3 linked regions of the Homo sapiens genome follow. The protein of the gene in region 1 interacts with the protein of each later gene in a pairwise test. Each region holds a gene or a part of one and is shown on either strand. Other genes may lie near its edges.

Region 1 (7,797 bases):
GCTGGGAAGCAGGCAGAGCCACAAAGCAAACTGTTGCTGTACGTTTATTTGTACTAATAGCAAGAGCTTCATACTGGGGCTTCGAAACAATACTGGCCTTGAGGCAACAACACAGGACAAGCTTCGCTATAAAAAGAGACTTTGGACATATTTCAATAAATAAAATATCCTTGGACTATGTTCAAGATGGAACTGATCTATCTCAAAGTTACTCTGTAAGGAACGGTGTTATGATTAGATACCAAAATGGCAATATTATCTCCTCAAATATGTAATTGTGTTACATGTGTGTACACACACACTCACTTGTGCCTTCAAAAGACACTATTAAACATTTAAATAAAGGGAAAAATCTTTCCCAAACATACTTCTAAGCCAATTTAGAGGTCATTGAACAGATGTCATATAATACTAATGTTAAATTACCCTGTGTAATAAGAAAATTACAGTACCTAAGTGAAGATAGTAAAGGGAAACCATCCAATGAATTACTCCAGAATTTCAAAATGAAATGATTTTTTCAAGATTAACAGTGGCACCATATGACTTTAGAAAAGTGAGTCTGATAGGGAGAAGGGAAATAAGAGACAAAAGTGAAGCTTTTCTGTGTTTATATATACCAATATTTGGTTCTGATGATAGAAGGGCTAATGTAATAGTATAGCTTTAAATTGTCCAGGAAGTATATTATTATTATTAAATGGTGTGGCAAGATATTTATTAAAATCTGACCAACTTCTCATTGAATTGTTTAATGTAAAATCACAATAGTTGTTTCTAGTCTACATATATTTCCTTTTGGTATTAGATATACTTTGAAAACCTAATTATTTTGAGAATATAGTATAACCAAAGAATGAAAATGTACAAAGTTTGACAACTTTAAATAATCACTAGTATTTCTTAAAGGACAAACCTCACTTACAGTTAGGAAACAATATTTATACTTAAGGTTGAAAAGCCAGGATGTAAAAAAATTTTGCTAATTTGGAAGATGACCTTTAAGTGCACCAAAACCAAATAATTTGTAGGCTATGACATAGGGCACATTCCTACAAAATTTGTGTGAATACTGCTTTAGTGGTTCTTGAAAGACAAACAAAGAAAGCTGGAATGAAATCTTTATTCCCCTCCCAAATAAGACGGAGACTAACAAAGGAGTACAGCAGCACTCTTTCAAGGCTTGCCATTAAAACGAGGTCTCTGTAGCACAGTTAATGAGATGTTTCATAGTGGAAAACAATCTGTTTTTAAGAATGTTTAGATCAAAAGTAATTTCTAATCTATGAAATAAAGTCTCTTCAATACCCTTCATTCACTAGTAAAGCTTTTATGTTTGTATTATTTACTTCAATCAGATGTTTTCAATTTTACCTTTTTTTCTTGTACAAATACTTGACATGGTTCATCAATACTGACCAACGGTTTTATTCTCTTCGGAAAAGAGAGATTCATGAGAGAGGGAGAATGAAAAAGAGAGAAACATCTTTGCCTAAATGATTTGCAAGCATCTGTGCTTTAAGCTACTTTTTATGAACACTCCTTAGTAAATGACTCAAGGTAAAAAGGCAGAAAAGCATCCAATGTTAGGAAATTGCAATCCAATACCATGTAATTTAAACCTGCAGTTGCTTCTCTTGTACTAAATGACATACAGATGGGTAGCTTAGTTCTCTCAACTTTGGGAACACAATTGGTCTTTTTGTATGAATGAACGTATATTAACAAAAATATTTTGGATAGAATTGTTTGATTTTAATTGTACATATTTTAATTATGCCATTGAAAAGAATAATTTTAACCAAGTCATTTTGTCATGTTAAGTTTGCATTTAATGATTTTGTGACAGTATTAACTAAGATACAACCCTTCCAACAAACACATGAGAATAAAATAATTTTTAAGAAGTCTGTACTGAATTAAGCAGAAACTCACCTATCACTGTTGACTGATTATTTAAGAAAGAGCCACTTTGCATTCAAGCTATTGAGAGGCTTGTTCTGATAGGACAGACATTTCTCAGGGAAACATTTCTACCTAACCGTTGATAACAGCAAAAATACAAGTAGTAGGTATTTGGATAAAGCCTAGGATAAGACGGGGTCCAGTGAGATGAGAGATCAACATGCCATTAGTGACATGCCTGCTGTGCCTGTGGATCTTTGCAGGCCAGGGAAGGGCTGAAGTATTTGTGGAAGGTCAGCAGAGGTGCTGTCTGACAACCTGCAGGCCCACTCCAAGGTGTATCTTGCTCTTTGGGTCTGGCTTGCTCTTTTGCTGCCTCCATTTTCTCTTGTGGAGAATCAACCGCTCTATCTTGGTGGCCCGGATTCTGCAAGCTGATATCCTTCTTCAACACCACAGTCAGGGTAACCGGCTAGACAATATTTTCCTAGTTTAAGGTCAGCGATCTCATACTATGACATTAGGTACCTTGAACGTAAAAAAAACGGGAAGCATTTCCACTCCTAATCATATTTCTTTATATTTCAAAAGAAGTTGCGTTTAGTATTTGGGAAACTAAGCAAGCTTTCTTCTAGTAACTTCAAAACATGGCAAGAACTCTCTACATTTAGGACCATCTGCAGGCCTCTTTCCCACTGTGATGGATGGCAAAGAAAAGCAATTTTACTGCAGTGAGTAATGGCTACCCTGTCCTGGAGTTATATTTCTTTTCAGTCATTTGCTCATGTAAAATAAAATACTACATATAAACAGGTGTTGTCTGAACATTTTACTGCAGGCTGTATAGGTTGAAATAAAAGCTGCCATTGTTATTAGAATCACATTAGAATTATTTCACCATTCAAATACAGTTAATCAGTAAAGTCTTCCTAGATATACTTTGCAAAAAGAAAATGTAGGTTTCTAAAAATATTCACATTTCCTTTTTTCTTTGTCTTTCTCCCTTTCTGTTTTTCCCACTCTTTCTTTGGAACTTCTTGAATCTGCATTAGTGAAAATGCCTTCTCCTGTAGTTTATTGAAAGTTTCTTGCTGCCCATTTAACATGGTAAGATACAGTCTTTGAAGAGATATACAGAATCTTTATACTTTGAAGGAGTATACAGAATCTAGTGAAGTTTCTGATGGAATCATGGAGAACAGTAATTCCTGGTCATAGAAAAATATATTTTTAGGGCTCAAAAATAGGATGGTAGTTAAATCATCCACAATGGAAATGGAATTTTGATGGTTTCAGGCTATTCTACTAAGTTGCAAAATTATTGCAGACTTACGGTTTAACATAATATGCCCATCATTTTATATATACAGTATAAATGTTTGTAAATAGACTTATGCTTTTGAATTTATTTGAAAAAAAAAGGGTTTCAGGATACTGGGAGTTATAAAGCATGTACCTTGTGAATGATCAGTGAATTTTTAGTATCACATGCTAGAGACTGGCTGTAGCATATTGTCACTGCTCCAGTGGAATCATCTGAATCTTAAGAAACATTCATTTTAAACGTAGAGAAATAATCAGCTGCAGTTCAGGTAAGCATTTCCAGTGCATTAGAGACTGGTCTGGTCATTGACAAGTGACTGCAGAAGCTGTGCTGTGGCGGTCAGCCAAAGCAATTATTTAGGATTCAAGCTAAAAAGGCTTCTTCTCCCATATCCTCTCTCTTTTCAGGGTCGTGTAGGGATAAAAAGAACTGTAAGGTGGTCTTTTCCCAGCAGGAACTGAGGAAGCGGCTAACACCCCTGCAGTACCATGTCACTCAGGAGAAAGGGACCGAAAGGTAAGGTGAGCTTTAATAAAAAGTCATTAAGAGCTAGATTTCTTCTCCCCCTGCCCTCTGCAGTGCTTTTCCTTGCCAATTAATTTAAAGCATTCTATACTTACTTGCTAAAGTCTATGAATTAGTATCCTTGAAAAGGTTAAAATGGTGTTGTTTAGGTTAAGACTAAGTTTTATTTGTTCTTTTCTCCATTTAATGAATACTGCATATCTGATATAAAGTCACAAAGCTTTTGTTAAGGGCCTGTTTTTAGTTTACTACAAAATGTGTGGAAGTAACAGCGATTTAGGTACATTTTTTGGGAAGACATCACAGTAAGCAAAACCATGAGGGACTTGGCACTATGCCAGGATGCTGAAATTTTGAAGGTGGCCATTGTAAGTATAGACGTTTTGGCTGCAAAAAGAAGGTAGCATAATTTAGTTCTTTTCTACCCAACTCCAATTTCTTTTTGAAGCACATGTGGAGAAAGTATTTATTGGCTCATTTGTGGTTGGAATGTCAAAAATTTTCAATAACTGCCCTCACATGGCTTTGGTCCTTGGAAGTTCGCCCTAAGTCCTGAAAAAAGAGTTTGTTCACTTCCAAGACTGTTTTTAGTGAATAAAGCCTCTCTCAGCTGATTCCAGCTCAAAGGTAACTTGCCAAGGTCCGACGACTTTGTTGTCTAATTTATACCATGGAGCTTGGCGTAAGACCGTAGCTTACCTCTGATCCAAATTTATTAATGATGTAACTTCTTGTTTTCATTCATGAACTGAAAGAGCTCTCTACTACACATGGGATCCCTGTTAACAGGCAACACTCTCTTCCTGTCACAGTATCTACTGTTTACTGAATTTACCAAATGTTGAATCTCTGACGAAGTCCAACCTTAGCATACAATGAGCTAGCAGTGGACTTCAGTCTCAGCTTGCGAGGATTTCTATCCGTTCTGTTGTGTACATGACTAGCAAAATGATTTAATGCACACAAACAACCAGAGATTAGGTCATTCTTAAAAATTCTGTTTATAAAAAATTTGGACCTCATAAAGAGGGTGAAAGGATAATAAAAACAAGCTGCAGAGCACATAGACTTTTTGTTGGGCTAGCACAGCTGATTTGTATTAGCTGAATGACCTCCTAGCCTTTAAGATTGTTAACTTAGAAAAATATTCCCTTAAAGCTGCAATATTCCTTTTCAAACCAAAAAATAAGACTCCTTCCACTTGAAGTCTTGGACCCTTCTGCATTTTCTGGTATATACTCTTGCACACTGTAAAGTAGCAAAATCTTATGTAATGTTCTTTCTGTGAATCTAAACTACAGGCTTTTTTTTTTAATAGAAAAAAATCTTTTTCTAAGCATTACATAACTAGATGGCTTGATTTTTTTATGTAACTTGCACTAGTTTGGAGTAGTTATATGCACATTTTATTATATAGATTTGAAATATATTAGTAAAGTTCAGATTTCCATATGTTTGGTTTGTTTTCATTCTAGTACAAAAAGCCCTTGAAAGATTTATTAGAGAAATATATTTTAAGCAAATACATTCTGTAAGAAATAATGCTAACTTTAATTTTTTAAATGATCTGTTTATTTATCAGTGCCTTTGAAGGAGAATACACACATCACAAAGATCCTGGAATATATAAATGTGTTGTTTGTGGAACTCCATTGTTTAAGTAAGTATGTTGAAAACCTATAGGTATGGCTGTATCATAGATGGCAGCAAACTAGTTATTGCTTTTTCATCTTAGAATCTTTCCATTGCTGAATTTTCTTCTGTTTGTTTTTCTATTTCCATTTACCCCCAACAAAACAAAAGTAATTATTGATTTCATGGTAAATTACCAGTGTGACAGACTGGCTGATTTTGCACTACTTGGATCTTTAAAATACCCAACATTAACTTGTTCATGTCAGTAACCATGGTGCTTAGCAGAGCTGTGAAAGAGATTTTGGCAAGCATAGAAATGTTTATGCATTTACTGATTTTTTAAATCTTCAAATGACAGCCTTAAATATTTATTGGAACATAATGAAAAGTTCTTCATGTATATACTTCACATTGAATAAAATCCACCAAGTAGATTATACTTTTGCAATGAAGGGAAATACCTGTATTGAATGTAACATGGGAACATACCTTTACATAGGTAAGCAAATTATGTAATATGAGGTTAACAGTTTTTGCATAGATTCAAAATCTTTATTTTAAAGATCCCAACAGTTTACCATAAAACAGGCAGCACACTGGACTTTCTGACTAAAATAGTTCATTCAGATAGTGTATTCTGGAGATTATGGATGTTATTCAAGAAAGGGAAATCTTTACCAAAAACTTATTTATCTAGGTGGAGAAAATTCTAGAAGCCCTATGCTTCCCATGGGTTGCTGACTTGGGGGAATAAAAAGGCAGAAACCTTAATTGGGAGTAAATGTCATTGGCTGGGTGTGGTGGCCCAGGCCTGCAATCACAGCACTTTGGGAGGCCAAGACGGGTGCATCACTTGAGGTCAGGAGTTCGAGATTAGCCTGGCCAACATGGTGAAACCCCATCTCTACTAAAAATACAAAAATTAGATAGGCATGGTGGTGTGCGCCTGTAGTCCCAGCTACTCGGGAGGCTGAGGCAGGAGAATCACTTGAACCCAGGAGGCGGAGGTTGCAGTCAGCCAAGTGTGCCACTGCACTCAAGCCTGGGCGACAGAGTAAGATTCCGTCTCAAAAAAAAAAAAAAAGTAAATGTCATTTATTTAAAATGGAATTACAGAGTTTCTTAGGGGAAATAAATAAACAAGGATCTGATACTTGTAGCTAAAACACACTTAATATCTCTCCATAAATGTTTCTCTTTTAAAAAACCAGCATTTACTGATTTTCCAGAAATAACAGGAAACAGTGGTTTCCTTGAAATTAAAAAAATGTTTCTTACATTGCACAAACCTTATTGAACATTACCATTGGTTGAGAATCTGTTCTGAATTCTTACGTATTCCTTCTGTTAAAAAACCGACCCTTCAAATTGTCACCCATTTCCTCTCAGAAAACACACTCCGTATATAATGTTTCAACACCTTTAGCTTATGTCATAATAGTTGATATAACACTTAAGATAGTTGCTGAGCCATGTTAAACTTGTTAATATCCCAAATGGTAAAAATTGGCCACATCCCCTTTACTTTTTGATTCAGATTCTCCATCCCCTTCCCTACCATGTGATTCACTAAAGTATGGGATCTAAAGAAAACTTACTGTTTTAAATAAGAAACAGAACCACTGTAAATGAAGGGTTTAACCCTTGTGAGATTTTTGAGTCACAAATCCTAAAAGCAAGACCCTTATCCAAACATAGATGCTAGTGGGAGTCAGGTTTCACATTTGATGTGATATTGCCTCTATTTCATCTACTTCTGTGCTTACAAGGAGAGCTTTTATTTTCCACATTTATAAGGAATGTGATTTAATACTTTCATTCTACTTTTTTCTTCTTTTAATTGTTTGCTTCTTTTTTACTTGCTTTCTTGTCTATTTTGGGAAAAATTCCTTGCTGTATCCTTCACTGGAGAATGTAGTCGAGTAGCTCATTGGTCTAGTGCCAACTTCTGTATGTGTACTTTCCTGAAACTGATATGTCTGAGAGTCTGTGGTTGGCTGCGTCTTCCTCCCATCTCCTCTATCATGACCACCCTTCTCCCACCTCACAAAAGATGACATACCTTTCACCCAGCCCAAATCTTACCATGTATTGCCCTGGGGTACAATCTCCAGGGCATCAAACAAAATGACAGTTCGGCAACTTTAAAGAGACTCGAAAGCAAGGTTAAAAAAGTGTTGGTAAAAAATAGTGAAATCGTATTTCACCTTGGCAAGGCTCCTGGCACAGCACAGTCCACCTCCCTGTCTGCCTGCTTGTCTGTCTCTCCATCTGCTGACTGTCCATTCATTTTCTACTAGCCTACTTAAGTGAGAAGGCTGCCATGAGAACATGTATTCATATCTTTATTCAAATGAACAAAAACGAAATAATTGGAAGTCTTTTTTTCGGACACAGAATACATCCGA
Region 2 (8,121 bases), on another chromosome or scaffold:
CGCAACAATCCCATGAGGAAAGCTAGCAACTTTAATTACTTTACCTACAGGCACTACACTGAGAATTGTTTCTTTCCACTTGAGTGGAATTGTGCTGCTATGCCAGAGTGAGCTGTCAGGAGTTTTGCTTCTCTTATACCAGAACTGTCTTCAAAGGCTCACCTTTATGTGTTATGTAAATGATAATTAATACATGTAACACATTGACAACAATAATAAGCATAAGTTTGGGAGTCAGAGAGATTCTAGGTTTGATTCTGGCTTTGCTAGTCGCTAACTCAATGGCCTGGGAACAGCAGCTTCACCTCTGGAGCCCTACCTACTAATCTGTAAAATAGGAATAGGAATAGTAGGACCACTCCCTTCCCTTCCCTTCCCTTCCCTTCCCTTCCCTTCCCTTCCCTTCCCTTCCCTTCCCTTCCCTTCCCTTCCCTTCCCTCCCCTCCCCTCCCCTCCCCTCCCCTCCCCTCCCCTCCCCTCCCCTTCCCTCCCCCTTCCCCCTCCCCCTCCCACTTCCCCTGCCTTTTCCTTCCCTTCCCTTCCCTTCTCTTTTCTCTTTTCTTTTTTCTTTTTTTGAGACAGAGTCTCTGTTACCCAGGCTGGAGTGCAGTGGGGTGACCGCCGCTCACTGCAACCTTCACCTCCCAGATTCAAGCGATTCTCCTGCCTCAGCCTCCCAAGCAGCTGGGACTACAGGCATGCACCACCACGCCCAGCTAATTTTTTGTTTGCTATGTTGGCCAGGCTGGTCTTGAACTCCTGGCCTCAAGTGATCCACCCACCTGGGCCCTCCCAAAGTGCTGGGATTACATGTGTGAGCCACCATGCCCAGCCAGGACCACAGTTTCTGATGGGTAAACATCCTGCCTCTGCTCCTAGCCATTCTTCACTCTCATTTAAAAAATCTGCTCTGCTGCCAGGTGCGGTGGCTCATGCCTGTAATCCCAGCACTTTGGGAGGCCAAGATGGGTGGATCGCTTGAGGCCAGGAGTTTGAGACTAGCCTGGCCAACATGGCAAAACTCCATCTCTACTAAAAATACAAAAATTAGCCAGGTGTGGGGGCATGCACCTGTGATCCCAGCTACTCAGGAGGCTGAGGCAGGAGAATCGCCTGAATCCGGGAGGTGGAGATTGCAGTGAGCAGAGATGGCGCCACTGCACTCCAGCCTGGGTGACAGAGCAAAACTCTGTCTCAAACAAAACAAAACAAACAAACAAAACAAAACAAAAAACAACTTCTCTGCAAATGATTGTGTCTCTGCCTTTCACCAAAGAAATTTTATTCCTCACTTCAAACTTTTTGAGAGGGTCACTGACCTGAGCATTTGACATTCATCCTCTGCAGTTTGGATGAACCTGAGGAACTGGTCTCCGATTTAGACTATTGAACTTTCAAGGTGGAGAATTGTGGCTTGCAGAGTGTGTTCATGGTGGGCAAGGACAGAAGGCTGGTTAGAAAATGCCTGCACTAGCGTATGTACAGGCAAAGGACATTTGTGTATTTCTGGCAGACCAAATGTAGGGAGAGAAAGCCAGCCATGAGCTATATTGAAGGGATTTGCCCAAAAGCACAAATGGATACCAACTGTGAGGGACTCCTTGCAGAATGCTGAAAATCAGGGCTTTCAGAGGGAACATAAGCAGTTAGGGAATCTTTGAGAAACCCTTGAATGTGACCCAAGAAAAAGGGTCAACTTTTAAATACCTGGTAACCCTCAAAAGCAGCAGTGAAGACTCAGCTTTATACTTGGAGGATATAGCACCATATGCTTAAAATGGTTTGTAATTCATTCACCTTTCTCCAGCCACATTTCAACCCCATTTCCCTGGATAGCTATACAAAACTTCCTTAGGAACCTGAACTCATCCCTTCTTGCTAGGCTGAGGTTCAAGGCTGGGACCTATTTGGGGAGCCTCTGGTCTTCTCTAATTTCTGTTCCATGCAAATTTTTCCTGGTCCCAGGGAATCATTAGCTAGGTAAAGATAAAATACCCCTTAGGAACAGTATCAGCTAGAACCCACATTATTCAACGAGAATGTTTGCCTGCTATATTAACCAGCACCACGTGGGAAATTCAAGCACTGTATAGAACACAGTGGGTTACAGGTTAAGCCCATCATGATGAGCTGATCTTAGTCTGCTTAAAGACCTGGAATGGAAGAAGGGGACCAGGAGGAAAAGGTGAGAATGAGGCAACAAGACTATTCTGTGTGACACATTCAAATGCATGCCAATAAATAAGTGTTAAGATAATAAAAATTAAGTGCTAAGGGCACTAAAAAGCCAAAAGATCACCTTTTGCCAGGGGAATTTGAAGGGGCTTTGTACAGGAATCCGTACTCTGAGGACTGTAGAGGTGAGTATTTGAAGATGAAGAGCCTGGGAATTCCATATTAGGAAAGGAAGCTAACTAGGGCAAGAGGTTAAGGAGAAAAAGCTGAATTGCTAGGTAGGGGGTAGATTACAAAGATTTCCCAGGGTAAGGAGCCAAATGCCCATGGGAAATCCATGCAGTAAAATAATGATTCCTAGGGGAAGCTTCTAAGCATATTAAAGTTTTCAATATTTATTTATTTTGTGTTGAGAGGGTCAAGGAATTCATGCCAGACTGTTTCAGGAGAGGGAGTTAAGAAGGGACAACAACAGGGAGAGGGCTATTATTTTCCCTTCTTCCCAAACACCAGGGGCACACTACTGACACATTTTGATTTTAAGATAAAATTCTTATGGGCAGATAAGATTTTAAGTGCTTCAAAGTGTTTCAGTTGGAGGCGCTTGCTTAGGCATCCCAAGGGAAGAACTGAGATTACATTTCTCCCCCAAACTAGGGGTGTTTGATTCAGTAGCAGCGCAGGCTGTTATTCCCAAAGTACCACTAATGATGCAATCATCAGTCCATCCACACATCGCCTACCTATCATCCATTCCATAAGCCAACATTTTTGAATGCTCACCATGTGTCAGGTCCCATACAGTGTTTCTGAGTTGCAACAATGAGTAAAACTGTCCTTACTAGTGTATGTCAGTGAGTTGGGAATGGGGGAGAAAGATGAAACAAAAATAGTAACTTTAATTTTTATAGCTGAGAGATGAATATTTGAGGGCTCCTTATATGATTTCTTCAGCTTTTTGTATGTTTAATAATTTCCCTAATAAAGTTAGATAATAAAAAAAACCCTTTCGGCCGGGCGCGGTGGCTCACGCCTGTAATCCCAGCACTTTGGGAGGCCGAGGTGGGCGGATTGCGAGGTCAGGAGATCGAGACCATCCTAGCTAACACTGTGAAACCCCGTCTCTACTAAAAAAAAGAAATACAAAAAAAATTAGCCGGGCGTGGTGGCGGGCGCCTGTAGCCCCAGCTACGCGGGAGGCTGAGGCAGGAGAATGGCGTGAACCCAGGAGGCGGAGCTTGCAGTGAGCCGAGATCTCGCCACTGCACTCCAGCCTGGGCGACAGAGCGAGGCTCTGTCTCAAAAAACAACCAACCAACCAAACAAAGAAAACAACAACAACAAAAAACTGTCCTTTCTTTCAAACAAGGGAGCTACATTTGATAGATGCCTGTATCACAAGGGCAAGTCCAGCCATGAAATTAATCCCAGGATATTAGTGGAAGAGAAGACCCTGGGGCAAGATGGGGAAGGTGGTCAGGAAATGCCCTCCAGTGAAGTTAGGTAAATGCTCTCTAGAAGTAATTGTTCAGATTAAGGAAGCCAAAAGCTAAACACCTGACTCAGCCTCAAACTGGGTTTGGAGGTGCTCACAGGTCAGGATCAGGAGTGAGGAACTAGCCTCTACCACATTACCTTCACTTTATTTATCTCCTTCTTCCCCCTTTGCTTAAATGTCAACGAACATCAAAGTTGATGTTCAGATTCAACCAGCATTTCCAGAGCACCTACTATGTATCAAAGGCTTCCGGTTAGAATCTGCCTTTACCACCTTACAGAGAGGGAAGGCCGAGAATGCCTCAAGCCGTGGAGAACGTGAGTCCATCAGGCAAGGACAGGTTAGGAACCCAGTCCCTCCAAGTCCAAGTCAGGGAAAACAGGTCAGAAACTTAGAATCAGTCGTGGGTTCAAATTCCGACTCGTTTCGTGGCTTTCGGCAAGTGAGTGGTCCTCTCTGAGCTGGCTCAATTTCTCCATCCATAAAAAGGGTACAGTAAGACCGTGGAAGGTTGTAAGGACCAGAGATTCTGACTATCAAGATCCTGGCACGTAGCGAAGGCTCCATAAATGGCAGCCATCATTCTTGGCCAAGTGCGGGCGCATTCTCCCGGGCACGCCTCCCGCGGGGTCCCTCAGGACAGGCCGAGCCCGCCTCCGCGGCTCCGGTCTCGCAGAGCTCGCGCCAGGTGGCCCAGCATCTTGGTGCCCGCGCCCCGAAGCGAGGAGCGAGGGCGGGTTGGATGACCAAGGTCTGCCCTGGAGGATCACCCCCCCCGCCCCTTCCACGCTCCCGGCGCAGGTGAGGTTTTCGGCCCAGGCCACGGGGACCGCGACCTCTGGGGAGGTCGAGGCGGAGGGTGCAGCGGGGGGCTTGGAGCAGGGCTCCAGAGGGCGCTCCCTCCCTCGCCCAGGTTCACCCCAGGGCCAGCCTCGGCGCCGGGGCCCGCGGGCTGCGCGCTCTGCGGCTGCGAAAACCCGGAGAGGCGGATTGGAGCGCGCTCACCGCGCTCTCAGCCAACTCCTCCGCGGTCCGGCCGCCGAGCTGGGCATGCTCAGTGCGGACGCCGCGCCGCCGTCCGCCAACTCGGAAGCTCGCGCTCCCGGGCCGTGGGGGCGAGAACGCCGGCGGCGAGCCGGCGTCGCTCGCCGCCCCCAGACAGTGGCAAACTTCGCGGCGTTCCCGGAGCTCGTCCGGGCGAGGCAGATACCGCACAAATAAAATCAAATCCAAGTCCCCCATCCCAACCCGAATGATGGAGGCTGCGGCGGCCGGAGTGACCCCGCCGCCGCCAGCCCCAGCCCGCTAGCCGCGGACCAACAGGTAAAGTGTTGGGGGTTGGGGGCGGAAGGGAAGAGGAGCTGGGGCCGTGGGGAGGCGGCGGGCTGGAGGAGCCCGAGACGCCTGCGGGCTGGCTGCCCCCGTCGGCGCTCACAGCCATCGCTCCTCACCCCCTTCCCCAGCCCCTGGAGGGACTGTAAAGGGTTAAGTCGGCCCCACGCCACCGTGAGCACGGCCCCCTCCAGCCGCCGCGACCGCCAGCAGCGCGCCTCGGCGCCTGCCCGGAGCCGCCGAGGGGACCGTAGCTGCGGATGCGCCACTGGAACCTGGCGGGCGTCTAGGAGGCACCGGCCGCTTCCCACCGGCCGCATCCCTGCGTCTCGCGCCCCCTCCAGACCTGCCTCTGCCTGCACTGGCCCGGTCCGTGTCCAGGTGGCGGGGTCTGCGGGGCGCGTGGCGGCGGGGGAAGGGTCCCTGCCGGGGAAGAGAGGCGGGGGCGGTCCGCTCCACAGCTTCTTCCCGGGAGGGGAGGGCCACCCTCGCCTTGGGCGAGCACTTCAGCCACCAGCCTAGGCGCCAAGAAAAGTTTTTTTTTTTTTTTTTCCAGTGCCCCACCCCCACCCCCATCCTGCGCCCAGCTGGGGTGGGTTTGGGTCCATTGGTGAAAAAAGTCACACGTTCCCATCAGCTGCTCCTCCCCCTGGAGACAAGGTAGGGGGGAGCAGAGGAGGCAGGCGCCGCGGAGGACCCTGGCCGACCTCTAGTCCCTCCGCCGCCGCCACCGGAGCGGTGCGTCCCGGGGCTCGAGCGCAGCCGAGTACCCGCCGAAGGCTGTCCCCATCAGTGCGTGTCTGCTGCCGGGCAGCGGCAGCATCCAACCTGCTTTATTCCTCCTGCCTGCAGCGCCACAGCGAGCGAGCGAGCGAGGAGGGGGAGAGAGGGAGTCTGTCTGCAAAGTGCTGCTCCCTGGTGCTCAGAGGCGGCTGCTCCAGCTCCAACTCTCATTCATTTCGCCGGTTAACATGAGAGATCATGGCCGCCTTCGGGCTTCTCAGCTATGAGCAGAGACCGCTGAAGCGCCCCCGGCTCGGGCCGCCCGACGTCTACCCACAGGACCCCAAGCAGAAGGAGGTAAGGGCGCCGGCGGCCTCCCCGGCAACCGGGGCCGCGCTCTGCAGCACTGACCCGGGGCCAAGTTGGCCCAGCGGGCATCGCCGGCGCTGCGGTGGAAGAGGTCGGGGAGGGGGATTAGAGGCGGGGGCCAGGCTGGGGGTGCTGGGCGACCCCCCGGCGGCGGAGACCGAGCGGCTGTCAGTCCCCGCGCTCCACTGGGGCGCTCGCTTTCCATGTGCCGGTCGCTTTCCCGTTGCCGGGCCTTGCACGGCGCCGCCGGGCGCTTCTCGGGCTTCTTCCCTGCCGAAACCTTGCTCGCTCTCACCCGTTTCTGCCTGCTTTATTTTTCTTCTTGCCGCTTCGGTAAATCGTCGTAAACTTTTTGAAAAATGTTGGAATGCAGTGCATCCTACACTGAGGTCTTGCGTTTTGCTTTTGCTGGCCAGGGACGAAGGTGAGGGGGAAGCTTTTCAAATTTTCCAGTTTGGAATGGAAGTCGTTTTTATCGAAGTGATAAATATTTAGCTCTCTGAATATACCTCTGTAACCCTTCTGCCCTTTAAAAATTAAAATTAAGGAGAAACACTGATTTTCGTCTCTAGAGGCAATGGGCTTAATTGCTAGAGGCTGTTTTGTATACGTAAAAGCAGGCGAGTTACCTTGGGAGGGAATAGTTCCCAGGATTGCTTATTTCTTTGAATGAGATTAATTGGAGACACCTTGACTCTTGCACCAGCTACATTAGCTTCAATGGCTAGGGTAACCATGGCATTTTGTAGCTGTGTATCTGTTTGTCAGGAGTTAACAAGTAATTATGTAACAAGTCTCTAGTTATAATGATCACCTTTGGCTACACCATTTGCCCAGGGACTTGCCTTTTTTTTGTTTTTTTTTTGATCACCTGCTACCCAGCAGTGCTTTCTGAGTTTGCCAGCTGCAGTCCACCCATCTTCTGTTCAGCTAAACACGAACTGACCATATTTCAAAACTTACCTTTCTGAGAATCTAAAAACCCTCCATTAAAAGTTTGTGGGCCCACTGATAGCACAGAAAGGGCCTTGTAAACCAGGCAAGGAGGGGTCCTTAAGACTTTCCTTTTGATAAGTGTATCTTTCATTAGGAGAGTAAGTGCTTGTTCTGGCTAAACTGTCTTGCTTATAAAGTGTCTGAGAAGTAAGGAACAGCAACTCCTTTTAGAGGTTTAGCACACTAAATATGCTCTAGCATCAGTGGAGTCACGCAGATGAAAGCTGGGAAGGTTTTACAGGTGGTTTCCAGCACCAGCTTTACAGGATGGTAGAGGTTTGAGAAGATTTCCCAGATTTTTTTTCCTACCCGTTACCCCACCCTGCTACCCCAACTTAGAATGAAGTTAATGGTTAAGGACTGGAAATAATAGAGAAGCTGAGGATCAAGTGTACAGTTAATAGCTTAAAAATTATTGGGAGGAAATTCTTAAAGTTTTGATAGGGACAGGGATATTTTGTTGGTTGAACTTTATCATCTTGTAATTAATGTCTTACTCTGTCTTTCCAGAGGGCAGCATAATTGATGGCATGATGGCTTGGGGTGCTGTGTGGGCTTATTTAGCATTTGTTCTTCAGGCCAATGCTCATTTCACGACTGGGGCCTCTGATTCTGGAAAGAGTAATTTTGGATTTCAGGGTCTCACAACATTTTATGGAGTTCTAAAACTGGAAGCGACCTTAGGGACTACTTTCTATAACTTCCTTTTGACTAAGTGAAACAGGCCTGGGAAAGCTTGACTCGTTTAACCAAGGTGTATAGGTGAATAAGCAGAGGAGTTGTACCACCAAACCAGTATTTATGTCAAAACTAATACTGCTTTGAGGATGATTTATGCTAAATTATCTTCTGATGTTATCCCCTTTCCCCCAAGGCAGCCAATGTTTTAACTCTCCCAAGCAGACAGAGTTATGTGTGGCTGTAGCCAAATTTGGGTACAATATGGAACAGGTGCTTGGCTGTTCTTGGGTGGTTGGTGAGTAGAGTTTCCTAAGCTTTAGTTATTTATGTCCTACCTCCCTCAAGAT
Region 3 (5,806 bases), on another chromosome or scaffold:
ATTGCTCTCTTCAAGCCTTAATTTGATGTCATATTAGCAGTAAGATCTTCTTCATAACCCCACCTTACCCTGGTACTCCTTTCCTCCATGGTAATTTTCACTACCAAAAATGCTATGTATTCTAAAAACTATATACTATGTATTCTCCTTATTTATAGTGTCTGTCTGTCTCAACAAGAGAGGGCAAAGCTTCTTGATGTTTTGTTCACAGCTATATCACATGCACCTACAATGGTGTTTAACATATAACAGTACTCATTCAATAGTTGTTGAATAAATTAGCTGAGATATAATGAAAGAGCTGTTACTTAAAATGCCCTGCACTCAGTATCACTTGCTACGTTACATAACATACTAAAATCAATCTCACCATAATTCTTAAAGAAATGGATCTTTTATTCTAATTTTACTTTTATGAGAAATAAGGAACTGATGAGGAAAAAAGATTAGGGATACAGTTTTTAAAATAAGTATCAGCATTTTCTTAGAATTCAGTAACTTACATCTATAATATGGAACAATAAGGATTTGATCCTTTTCCTCTGTGAAGCTCTTCTTCCTACCTCTTCCCTCTCAACCACTGATCCCTCAGAGTACCACTTCACCTTTACCTTCCCACTATCACTCCATCTTTCTTGCTGCTTGAAGTCAAACATTCAAAGGCTTCAAAATTGTGGATCATCAAATAAATGTTAAATTGAGTTAATTATATCCAGTTATAGATATAGACATATATTTTGAAAATATTTTCATTGACTACCCTGAAACCACAAAAGTGTTACTGTTAAGTAACGAAAACGCCATTCCTAGCATTTTCTGATTAATCAAAATTTTACTGAACTTAATCTTAGATGTGAGTTTCTTTTTCTTTTTCTTTTTTTTTTTTTTTTGTTGTTTAACGAGGAGCGTAAGACATTGGATAAGATCCAGACTGAAGAAATGTTGAACAGAAATGATTAACAATTTTTTAAAAGTATATTATAGAAATTGGTTTTTGTGAAAAACACAAGACGACTATGAGAAAACTTTGAAATCACTTTATACTTGGGACAATTTGAGTTATCAAAGTTTCCACTTTGACAGAGGTAGGATTCAATAAGAAAGTACATGTTGCAACTACAAAAAGTTGAAAGGCAAGTATAAATGAAAAAAGAAATTTAAGTTCCTGCTGCCTCCATTGTGGTTCAATCTCTTATAATAGCTTCCTAGTTGCTTTTTCATGATCAGACTGTCCCCTACCAGCCTATTTAAACTGTTTGCAAGTTGATCTTCCTATTGCAGAGCTGGGATACTATTTCTCCATACTCAAAAACCTTAAAAGCAAAGCCCCATTTCCTGAAGCACCACCATGTAAACATCTTTCAAAACATGGTCCTATTATTAGATGGCCTTGGTGCATATTTTCTTTAATATTTCCCACAAGGCTGCTATGCACACGTAGCACAGAAGTCAAACTGGGCTGTTTATTCTTCAATCACACCCACTGATTTCTTCTTCTATTCCTTTATAAATTAGCTCTCTCCTCCTGAAGTGTCCACTCCTCACACCATCTTTCATCAGCTCCTTCTAAAAGCCCACTCATCCAGTTATCTCATAAAGCCTTTCATGCTCTCTTCTAACCCTATAAGCATTCCCTCTATTCCAAAGTATCGCAGAACTTCACATCTTCCTGAGGCACCTAACAAGCCCCAGCTTATATCATAGTTGTCTATGTATTTATTTTATTCCTTCCCATCCATGTCATCCCTGCCTGATTCTGTAAGGTCTGAGGCTGTGACCTATTTACCTTTAGTTACTCAGGTAATAGGATAGAATCTTTTCCACATGACATGCTCAATTGTTCCTTGATTTATAAAGTGACTAAATATCAGGAGAGACACTATGGAATCACAGTTGCTGTTCTGCTCAGCAGCCAAAACCTAGCTCAGGTGTCCTCTTGAGAAATTTTCCAAAGACCTATTACAGGGATCTACAAGAAGACAAGGGCACCTTGTTTGAATTCTCCTGCAGATCCCACAGAATACACACAATGGAGGGAAAAACCCCTTTGAAAAGTATTGGACTGGGAAAAAGGAGATAGCCTGGGCACTGCCATTTAAGTTTCACCTGCACCAATCTCTTTAATGATTTTTAAATAACATCATGTTATAATTTGGAAAAAGGAATACTGACTTACTTATGCCGAGTAGAACAGAAATCAACAAGCAGAAACTACGTTTTCCCAGCAAGAAAACTGGGTTCTCTATAACAAGATTTTTCTGAAGACAAAGACATCCAACTACACATCTTCTTTGGTAGCTTTTAAATATCACTGTGTCACTAGGTCATGGTCTCTGCCACCTGAGTTAGACATGTGTCCCACACAGCAAGCATCCTACACAACTGCTGCATTTTAAACTCCAGAAGAGGCAAAAGAGGGGATTCAAATATTCCCAATGGAGGAGGTTAGGTTTTTTTATTCAGAGTTTATGAAGTATCAAGTTAAAGGTAGAATGTTCTAATAAAAATATATAAATATTTTATTATTCCACTCCTATACTTTCATTGCACTTAAAGAAATTAAGTTGTATAGATTTCATCAAGTTTATTTTTCAAAAGGAGAAAAATTAGAACTCAGAGTGCTTTACGTAGGATTCACAAAGCTTCAAAGGTCAGTGTTCAGAGGAAATCAGATGACAACTGCATTTTAAAATTCTTGATTCTGCCCATAATTCCCCAAGGGAAAATCTGTAGCTCTATGTGCTAGTTCAGAGGTGAATTTTTTAAAAAAGAAACTTTCTTCCTACTCTGCTATTTATTCATATTTTATAAGTATTCAGAAGTAATTTGACATCTATACCTGAATATTAAAAATACAGCTTTGTTTTAACATACAACATAGTTTTATGAATCATGCATATAAAATACTGCTATTAGAAAAACTTCTTTATAACATAATGATTACCTGCCTTAAAAGAAAATACGTTATAAAACAGTAAGGCCGGTTTTAAATTGTGCATAGAACCAGTAATTGTATCTTTAAGGCAATTAGAAGATTTATTGAATATTGGTTAAAAGTAGATTGACAATGACATTAAAGAATAAAGTGTAATTTATTTGGTGCTACTTTGTGAATGCTTCCAAGTACAAATCATCTCACAATACCATATACAACATACTTTCAATCACAACTCAAATATAAAATAACCTACAAAATCACATTGCTATAATCAATATACAATAATTGTATTTTTAAAAGAAGAAAAAACGTTAGCAATTTTAAGTTAAGTTGCAGTAACTTTTTTCAAATAAAATATTAGCACCATACCAGATAAAATAATCTAAAACTATTGGCCTTCTCATTCTTCTTAAATAACTAAATAGAAACTTTTTTTCAAAGCACAAATATTAATTTGTAAAATCAGTTCTACAGTAGTTAATATTTCTTTCTTTATTGTTTCTTTTTTGCATTTTTCCCTATAAGGAAAAATATGAATTAAAAACTTTCACGGGATATGAAAATCAAACAAATAAATCTGACCCAACCAAGTACTGTCCTTCAGCAATGAGTTCCGACAGAAGCAAAAGTGGACATTTCACGGCGTATGGTACTGAAAGGCGAGAGTTCGAGTTCCGTGGTGTACTCGTTGTCATTGTCATCACTGGTCACCGTTGAAGACTTCTGAATGCATTCCTCACAGCAACAGCAGCAGCACTCCATGAAGGCCCGACTGAAGGGTTTGCAGAGACAGAAAAGGAGGACTGGGGTGACACAGGACTTAAAGAACAAAAGGAACTGGCTGATGATATTAAGGAGGTCCATTGTCTGCTGTGAAACCCCTGTAGCCATGTAGGCAGTAACAATGTTGCAGATATTTTCAGGAATAATGCAAAATCCATATAAAATGGTCAGTGCCACTACTGTACAGTTCATCTGACTCTCTAGTTGAATCTGCCGTTTATTCCCTCGGGTACAGGCTTTCTCTGCTTTGCGGATTTTCCTCGCAGTCACTAGAGAGCAGGTGATGGTGAAAAGCGTGGGCAAACAAAAGTAACAGCCAAAATACCACCACAGTCTCGCACTGTCGTAGGTGAGGGCTAGAACATAGATGGTGTCTGGTAAATCAGGAGAGATCTTAATAATGCACCTTTCTGCCGGAGCTCGGCCACTAAACCCCAAATCCTCCTTGCTCAGCTGGCGGAGAACAACTTCTGGAAGTGCTAACAATAGAGCTCCCACCCATATAACAGCAAGTTTGGCAGTTGTTGAGGAACAGTTTTCGATCATTTCGTAGTACATCTGTACGTTGGTGGCAGCACGGAAGCGGTCTATGCACAGAGCACATAAGGTGAAAGTGGTGACTCCCAGAGAAGCGACCTGTGGGGGAACATAGAAGACATTTATTCCCGGTGTCCCCCGAAAGATCAAAGCACTAGGAAATAAATGCAGATTGGCAAAACTGTAAAAAAAAATATGGATAAATAAAAATGAGAGAGAGAGAGAGAACAGTTTTCCAGAATGAGGCATGGGTAACTGGGCTCAGGACGTCAGCTGAATCATTGTAAGCATAAAAAAAGAAAACACACTGTAGTGGTTTGAGGGTCATGGAGTGCAGAACATTTAGGACTGGAAGGATCCATAAAGATCAGCTAGTCCAATCCCTTTTTATTATAGATCAGAACCCAGATACACTAAAAATTTTATTCACCACGAAAATGTCTGCCACTAGGAGATCTAGATAAGGAGTCAGGGTAGTGCAGAAATTCCCATTTTCATTGCTGACCAGGATGCTCATGTTTTCCAGTGTGAGGGTCAGTAGTGTGCCTTACACACAGCAAACACTCAAGAGCTTATTGTCTCCAATGGACTAAATGATTGGAGGGCTCCTCCAATTTTTCCTAAATGCAAAATAAAGTATTACAGTATTATTTTCAAAGGCATACACTTACGGAAAACAAGAAAGGGAAATTCTCCAGAGGCCAAAATCAAAAAGGAAACAAATTTCAAACAGGCCAGAGACCCCTCCCTCTTCATGCTGCGTGTTTGCCCTAGGGGCACCTGCCAATCCTGGTGAGGGTTTCAAGTTAGTTTTAGCTAGAAAAATGGGGCAAGGTGCCCAGGTGCACAGAGACAGGAAACAGAGCTGGGGCCAATGTGGGTGGGGATTGGGTCAAAGACTCCCTGTGAATTTGGAACTCCTCAAATGCTGACATCTTTAGAGGTGTAAAGGGAAAAAAGAGAGAGAGATAATGAAGAAATCTGCCTGGATGACAGGGTTTGGGTCTGGATGAACTGGGGGAAAAGGAGGGAAAAAAATGGCAAATTCTAACTGGGAGCCTGAACTTACATGGTGTTAGGATCAGAATTTCCAGGATCTACGTGGCTCAGAAAACCCAAAATACAATTTAAAATAATCCCAGGCACCTGGTTAAAATCAAACATAAATCCTCTCTGGAAGAATGCACTTTAAAACCAGGCCTCAAAAAATCCTATAGTTAAAATTCAAGGGACATGGGTTCACAAAATCAAAAGTCACAATATGCAAGAGACAATGAGCCACTATGAATTTATATGCCAAAGATACAGAATCAGACATAAGAAGTATATTTATCATAAAATAGGTATGTACATCAAATTTAAAGAAATAGGAGATACTAAAATAGAACATGTAAAAATACAAGAAAATATGCAGAAAATAGCCAAAAAGAATGTCTAGATATCCCAAACACAGGAAAATTTTGGAGCATAAAACTCTTTGACAATAACCACATGAAAAACTGTATTCAAAAAGGCACTGCTCTTATAAGCATATGGTCCAGACATCTA

The links.
Region 2: the proteins of MSRB3 (region 1) and MED12L interact in binary tests that used the Homo sapiens proteins (3 or more experiments, as listed by UniProt).
Region 3: the proteins of MSRB3 (region 1) and GPR37 interact in binary tests that used the Homo sapiens proteins (3 or more experiments, as listed by UniProt).

What each region holds. Positions count from the first base shown.
Region 1 is NC_000012.12:65,323,190-65,330,986, forward strand, and holds part of MSRB3 (methionine-R-sulfoxide reductase B3 isoform 2 precursor), read left to right. Parts: intron 1-3,636; coding exon 3,637-3,745; intron 3,746-5,336; coding exon 5,337-5,414; intron 5,415-7,797. UniProt on the Homo sapiens protein: Catalyzes the reduction of free and protein-bound methionine sulfoxide to methionine. Isoform 2 is essential for hearing.
Region 2 is NC_000003.12:151,080,941-151,089,061, forward strand, and holds the start of MED12L (mediator of RNA polymerase II transcription subunit 12-like protein), read left to right. Parts: upstream 1-4,723; 5' UTR 4,724-4,996; intron 4,997-5,714; exon of another isoform or gene 5,715-5,857; 5' UTR 5,858-5,986; coding exon 5,987-6,085; intron 6,086-8,121. UniProt on the Homo sapiens protein: May be a component of the Mediator complex, a coactivator involved in the regulated transcription of nearly all RNA polymerase II-dependent genes.
Region 3 is NC_000007.14:124,742,987-124,748,792, forward strand, and holds the end of GPR37 (prosaposin receptor GPR37 precursor), read right to left. Parts: intron 4,358-5,806; coding exon 3,539-4,357; 3' UTR 899-3,538; downstream 1-898.